2 linked regions of the Homo sapiens genome follow. The protein of the gene in region 1 purifies or fractionates together with the protein of each later gene. This does not show direct contact. Each region holds a gene or a part of one and is shown on either strand. Other genes may lie near its edges.

Region 1 (4,019 bases):
CCAGAACTAGGCCGGACGTGGTGGCTCACGCCTGTAATCCCATCACTTTGGGAAGCCGAGGTGGGCAGATCACCTGAGGTTGGGATTTCGAGACCAGCCTGTCCAACGTGGTGAAACCCCATCTCTACTAAAAATACAAAAATCAGCCAGGTGTGGTGGCGCACACCTGTAATCCCAGCTACTCGGGAGGCTGAGGCAGGAGAATCACTTGAACCCAGAGGTTGCAGTGAGCTGAGATTGCACCATTGCACTCCAGCCTAGGCAACAACAGCGAAACTTCGTCTCAAAAAAAAAAAAAAAAAAAAAAAAAAAGAAAAACAAAAAACCCAGAATTATTCAATTCCTTTCCCTGCTGCCATGCAGGTTGCACTAAGGAGCCGAGTGAAGTAGGGATACTGACCAATATCTGTCCAGCTCTGTTGACCCTGTGTTGTCTATGTATTTGTAGAGAACCTAGCTGGTAAGCCAGCCCTGCAAATCCCCAGTTCTCGAGCTGCTGCCCCAAGGCCTCCAGTATCTGCCGCCAGCGGGCGTCCTCAGGATGATACAGACAGCAGCCGGGCCTCACTCCCAGAACTGCCCCGGATGCAGAGACCCTCTTTACCGGACCTCTCTCGGCCTAATACCACCAGCAGTACGGGCATGAAGCACAGCTCCTCTGCCCCTCCCCCACCACCCCCAGGGCGGCGTGCCAACGCACCCCCCACACCTCTGCCTATGCACAGCAGCAAAGCCCCCGCCTACAACAGAGAGAAACCCTTGCCACCGACGCCTGGACAAAGGCTTCACCCTGGTCGAGAGGGACCTCCTGCTCCACCCCCAGTCAAACCACCTCCTTCCCCTGTGAATATCAGAACAGGACCAAGTGGCCAGTCTCTGGCTCCTCCTCCTCCGCCTTACCGCCAGCCTCCTGGGGTCCCCAATGGACCCTCTAGCCCCACTAATGAGTCAGCCCCTGAGCTGCCACAGAGACACAATTCTTTGCATAGGAAGACACCAGGGCCTGTCAGAGGCCTAGCACCTCCTCCACCCACCTCGGCCTCCCCATCTTTACTGAGTAATAGGCCACCTCCCCCAGCCCGAGACCCTCCCAGTCGGGGAGCAGGTAAGTGCTTGGAAGCACCTTTTTCCCTATCATGCTGTGAGTTGATTTTATCTTTCCCCAGAGCACTCCTTGAAGACAGTAATTCGTTTATTCACTCAGTGGGTTTATTGAGTACCTTTTTATGTGTCAGGTCTGTTGGTAGGGAAATAGCAATAAATAGAAAAGACAAAAAAATTTGACAGTCAAACTAGTAAAATATATAAATACATAGTATGCAGTATGCTTTAGAGAATTACAAAGCAGAGGAGAGGAATAAGATATACTGGGGCGGAGGTCGGGATGATGATATCTTTAATTGGAGGAGTGGGGAGAGAGTCAGGACAGTCCTTACTGATACGGTGAAAATTTGACAAAGACCTTAAGAAAGTGACGAGTAAGCTTAGTAGTTATCTAGGAGAACAGCTGTTGCAGGCAGTGGGAACAACAAATGCAGAGGCCATAAGGCAGAAGTATTCTTGAAACATTTTGGGGACAGCAAGGGGGCCATTGTGGCAAGACTACAAAGAGTGAGGGGAGGGAAGAGTGGTAGGACTTGGAGGTTGGAAAGCTGGAGCTGCAGGGGAGAGCGCACTGCAGGATTTTGCAAAGACCTTGGATTTAACTGTGTGAGATGGGAAGCCACTGGAGGGTTTTAAACAGAGAAGTAGTATGATTTGATTCACCTTTTAAAAAGATCATTAACTCCTATGTTGAGAACAGACCGCAGGAGGACAAAGGTGACAAAAGGAGACCAGTTACTGGGCTGTTGCAGTAAACGGCCAGATGGTTAGGACTACTGTGAATTTGTGGGAAGATAGGTGTTCAGTTTGAGACAAGTTTGAGATGCCTGTTAGGTAATCAAGAAGAGACAATGAATTGGTAATTGGCTATCAGACTCCAAAGTTGAGGGGAGAGGTTTCGGCTAGAGAGATACATTTGAATGGTGTTGAAAACCACATGCTGGATGAAGTCACCTAAGGAGTGAATATAGATAAGAAGAGGCCTAGGAGGCTGAGGCAGGAGAATCGCTTGAACTCAGGAGGCAGAGGTTGCAGTGAGCCGAGATCACGCCACTGCACTCCAGCCTGGGCGACAGAGTGACAGTCCATCTCAAAAAAAAAAAAAAAAAAAATGAGGGCTGAGCCCTCGCCCTCCTACATTAGAGGCAAAAGAGATGAAGAATACCCAGCAGAGGAAACAGAAAAGCTTCTAGTGAGGATGGAAGGAGAAAAACCAAGAATGTGATGGAAAAACTCCAAGGTAGAGTAAGTGGTCAGCTGTGCCCAGTGCTGCAGATGGGTCAGGTAAGTTAAAGACCAAGAACTGGCATTGGTCTTAGTATCATGGGACCCTTTTGAGTAGTTTCAGTGGAGTGGTGGAGGGTGAAAGTGAAAGCTTAATTGGAGTGGGTTCAAGAATGCAGGAATAGGAGGAGAGAAATTGGAGATAGCAATATAGAAATCTCTTAAAGAGTTCGCTGTAAAGTCCAGGAGAGAGGGGTGAAGATAAGTGAAGTGATTGTTGGACGAAGATGTGGGGTTGAGAGTTGTTTTTTTCCCATCCCAAGATGGGAGACCTATTTGTATGCTGATGGAATGAGTAGCATGAAACTTAGGAGAGAGGGAAAAAATTGAATCAGAAGAGAGGGAACAGATTGCCTGAATAATGACCTGGAGGAGGCCAGAGAAAAGAGAATGTGATCGATAGATAAAAAGGGTTGGCCTTAGATAGGAACATAGTTCTTCCATAGTAACAAGAGGGGAGGCAGAGCATATAGGCTTAGAAGCAAGTGGGTAGGTGGGTGTAGTGGTAGAAGCATGTGGAAAGTTTATTCTAATTTGCTTCTGTTTTCTCAGTGAAATGGAAAGCAAGAGCATCAGCTGTGATTGAGGCGAGGGAAGGAGAAGGAGAGTTGAGGAGAGAGAAGAGGCATGAAATGGTCATCTGGAGCGTGGGAGTGTGGGTGGACTAGGGAAGTGTGCTCAGATAGGCAACCACGCGAAGGGCCCACTTGAGATTATGGGCCATACATTTCATGTGAGATTAATTAGTCTCATGTGTTCAGTTGTGATTTGCAGGTACAGAAAAAGAGTAGAGCTGTGTTTAACCAGCGTTAGCATGTTTTAGGCATGTGCGACTCTAAGGGAGAGTGGGGCAGGAAGGGAAGGGTGTATGTGAGGGAGTGATTGCAATAATGGAGCCTAAGCTGGGTGAGGAGGGAATTTAGGAACCCTGGAAAAAGAAGAGGTTGTGTAATCTCGTTATAATTAGCATAACTGAAATTTTAGAGTGAGGGAGACCGTGACAGCTCTCTGGGGCCTTATTGGACATGGGAATTTTGGCTCCCATATCGTTGTATCATTAGACTTTGAGACATACCCTCCACAAACAGCTTCTTGGCCTTTATTTATTTATTTGTTTGTTTGTGTTTTGAGACAGAGCCTTGCTCTTTCGCCCAGGCTGGAGTGCAGTGGTGCAATCTCTGCTCATTGCAACCTCTTCCTCCCAGGTTCAAGTGATTGTTGTGTCTCAGCCTCCTGACTAGCTGGAATTACAGGCATGTGCCACCATATCTGGCTAATTTTTGTATTTTTAGTAGAAACGGGTTTTCGCCGTGTTGGCCAGGCTGGTCTCAAACTCCTGACCTCAAGTGAGCCACTGCGCCCAGCCCTTAGCTTTTATTTTAAAGTCAGTTTCTACAGGTATAGAACATTGATTAAGGAGTTATGTCATGGAGTCTGGGCATGATGGCTCACGCCTTAATCCCAGCACTTTGGAAGGTTGAGGCCAGCAGATCATTTAAGCCCAGGAGTTCGAGACCAGCCTGGGCAACATGGCAAAACCCTGTCTCTACAAAAAATAATTTTAAAAAATTAGCCTGGCATGGCGGTGCATGCCTGTAGTCCCAGCTACTTGAGTGGCTGAGGTGGGAAGA
Region 2 (3,500 bases), on another chromosome or scaffold:
AATGAGCACGTAAACTCCATTCCCCTTAATCTGATGGCATGTGAGTCACATGCTGCCACGTGTGTTTGGAGAGTTTTTATCTGTGGTTGGTTCCTAACTGGTCCCCTCATGGGCTTATATTCCCTCTCCCTCCTCCCAGGCCTGTGGTGCCTGAAACCTGGCGGGATGGGAAAGGGGGTAAGGTAAGGTAACATCTGGGTATCAGGAGGGCTGTAGAAGGAGTATGGCAGAAGTGGGGTATCTGGCAAAGTGGTGGTTGTGTAGCACTGGGGAGTCTTGTAGGGGCACAAAGGAGGGGCCGGGGATCCCTGACATGTGCCAGGCGCTCTTTTGTTTATCCATATTTATAACTCATTTAGTCCTCTTAGTAAGCTCATGGGGTTATCCCCATTTTACAGATGGGGCAACTGAAGTTAAGTGACTTGCCTGAGGTCACACAGTAAGTGGCTGAGCCAGATTCACAGCCATGCAGTCTGGCTCCAGAAGCTGTGCTTGTGAGCCTCTCTGCCTCAGCACCTGTCGTCGAGGAATGGGGATAATCTCTTGTCTCAGAGACTGGAGGCAGGTGTGTTCTGGAAGACTGAAGGAGGGTTGTCTTCTGCAGAAGGCAGACCTGGAAGGAAAGGCTGGTCAGATCCAGAGACGGGGCGGGGGGCGGGGGGGTACATTCCAGGCAGAGTGACAGCAGGGACAAAGATGCAAAGGCTGGAATGTGAGTGGTGGTCTCAGGGGCTGGGGAGGAAATCAGCATAGGAACACGAGAGAGGACATGGGTCGTGAGGCTGGTGGGGCAGCCAGCTTGGATTGCTGCTGCAGGGCACTTTAAATGATCAGCCTCATTGGACCTTGTGGGACAGGTGGCCCAGGGCTGCTTCTCCTTGCAGGGCCTGGCAAAGACCCTGCATCCCTTAGCCCCACTCTGCCTAATCTGGGCCTTCCCTGAGGTCACACATTTCATCACTGGGTTCCCGGGGTCTAGCCTTGACCAGCCACTGAGGACAAGAGGGGCAGCCGAGGCAGGGCTGGAGGGCTGGGGGTTGGGGGTCCAGGCTGAGGTCCTGGCCCTGACACTGACTCACTGAGGGGCCTAGGGCCACTCAACCCCCTCCCTTGGATTCTGTTTCCTCTTCTGTCTTTTATTTGCAAACTTTTTATTGTGAAATATTATAAGCATTTACAGAAGTAGAGAAAATGTTATATAACAGTCATATACTCATGGCTTAGCATCAACAGATACCAACACATGTCCAATCTCATCTCAATCAAGATATTTCTCTAAAAGATAAGGACTTTTTCTAACACAATCACAATACCATTATTATACCTAAGAAGTATTAATTCCTTTATATAGTCAAATATTCACTTAGTATTCACATTCCCTGTTGTCTCAGACATGTCTTTTTGTTTTTTAAATTGTTTAAATCAAGTTCCAGGTAAAGTTCACACGTTATGATTGGTTGATATGTCTTAGTCTCTTTCAATCCACAGTTCTCCTCTCCATCTTTTCTTATTCTTTTGCAGTTTATCTATGGGAGGAAGCAGGTGGTTTGTCCTGCTGTGTTTCCTGCAGACTGGATTTTGTTGATTGCATCCCTGTGGTGTTATTTAGTATGTTCTTCTGTCCTCTCTGTAAATTGGGAGTTGCATTTGTCTGTCCCTGACACCTCATTTAGTCATCAACAAGTCCTTCAATTCTACATTCAAAACACCCAGAATCCACCCACTTCTTGTCACCTCCATTGCTGCCTTCCCTTCTGAGCCTCCACTATCCTCTCCTAGATCTTTGCAGCAGCCTCTACCTGGTCTTCCTGCCCCGTCCTTGCCTCACCAGCCAAAGGTCCTTTAAAACTTAAATCAGATCACATCCTTCCTCTGCTAAAGCTCTTCAATGACTCCCCTCCCATTCAGAATAAAGCCCAGAATCCTATAACAGGCTAGATGCAGTGGCTCACACCTGTAATCCCAGCACTTTGGGAGGCCGAGGCAGGTGGATCACCTGAGGTCAGGGGTTTCAGACCAGCCTGGCCAACATGGTGAAACCCCATCTGTACTAAAATTACAAAAATTAGCCAGGTGTGATGGCACACACCTGTAGTCCCAGCTACTCAGGAGCCTGAGGCAGGAGAATCCCTCAAACCTGGGAGGCAGAGGTTGCAGTGAGCTGAGATCATACCACTGCATCCAGCCTGGGTGACAGAGCAAGACTCTGTCTCAGAAAAAAAAAAAAAAAAAAAAAGCCCTATAATTGCCTGCAAGACCCCATGTGATCCGGCTGCCCAATACCTCAGACCTTCTCTCATACATCCTAGCCTCACTGATCCCCAGGTCATTTCTTGGACCCATCAAACACCCTGCCCCAGGGCCTTTGCACTCCTATTCCCTATGCCTGGAATTCTCTTCCCCAAAGGCCTACATGGCTCATGATGTTCACATCTCCACCCACATCACCCCCTCAGAGAGGCCTCCCAGACCACCTTATCAAAAACAGCCCTCGTTGTCCCCCATCTCCTGATTCTACTTTATCATCTTCATAGCACTTATCCCTGACATTATGCTCTTGTTGGTTTCTTGTCTGTCCCCCTTACCTGCCCAAGCATTCCATGAAGGCAGGGTTTGGGTGGGGGCAGAGCAGCATGACTGGGCTTCCCCTACCCCTCACCCCTGCCCACAGAGCTGACCGCCTCCTCCTCTCACATTGCTAGCTCCTCTACTTTCAATGTTTCCTAAAATTAAAAAAAAAATTAAAAAAACACATATTTGTGCCTAGTGTGTCATTGTTTACAAAATACTTCCTGTCTCAAGTCTGGTCTTCTAGAAGCAGAGCTGAGACAAGGATTCCCGGGCAAATGATTTATTGCAGGCATGCTCATATTAGAGCGGGAAAAGATTTGCTTACAGCTAGGATCCCACGGAGAGCTCTAGATTATGAACAGCCAGTCTCCCAGGGTTACCTTCCTCCAGACAAGGGGCCAGGCCTTTGTAGCCCCTTAGCTGGTGGTCATTGTCTGCAAGCTGCTCCCGGGGAAGGGCCTAGCCTCCCCCTGCATCTCCAGATGAGGCAGCTCCTGTAAGCCAAGGGCAGCTCTCAGGGGAAGGGGGCAGCTGTGAGCTGCTAGCAGCCAGCACCCACAGCTGCTGAGAGATGGGTACCCCACCTGATAGAAGGACACTGGCAGTACCCCCTCTACTTCCATATCCATTTCTGCTTTGAGCCTTGCCACAAGCCTGTGGGGATGGTATTTATTAATGATAATTATTCCCATTTCCTAGAGGAGGAAGCTGAGGTTCTTAGGGCTGAAATGACTTGCTTGAGGTTGCACAGCCAGGAAGGGGTTAGATTTAAGCTCAAATTCTTACTCAGGATCCTCTGATTAGCGGACAAATCGTCTTAGTGGCTGCTGGTTTGTAGTTTTACTCTCAAGCATTCATCCTTTTGAATGTTAAATGAATATGTATTGCGTGTGGTGTGCTGTGTGCTGAACTAGGCACCAGGCCATTCA

Evidence for each region.
Region 2: the proteins of WIPF2 (region 1) and PACSIN1 purify together in Homo sapiens (co-immunoprecipitation; one large-scale study listed by IntAct). This does not show direct contact.

Annotation. Positions count from the first base shown.
Region 1 is NC_000017.11:40,264,042-40,268,060, forward strand, and holds part of WIPF2 (WAS/WASL-interacting protein family member 2), read left to right. Parts: intron 1-448; coding exon 449-1,105; intron 1,106-4,019. UniProt on the Homo sapiens protein: Plays an active role in the formation of cell surface protrusions downstream of activated PDGFB receptors. Plays an important role in actin-microspike formation through cooperation with WASL.
Region 2 is NC_000006.12:34,472,576-34,476,075, forward strand, and holds part of PACSIN1 (protein kinase C and casein kinase substrate in neurons protein 1), read left to right. Parts: intron 1-3,500. UniProt on the Homo sapiens protein: Plays a role in the reorganization of the microtubule cytoskeleton via its interaction with MAPT; this decreases microtubule stability and inhibits MAPT-induced microtubule polymerization.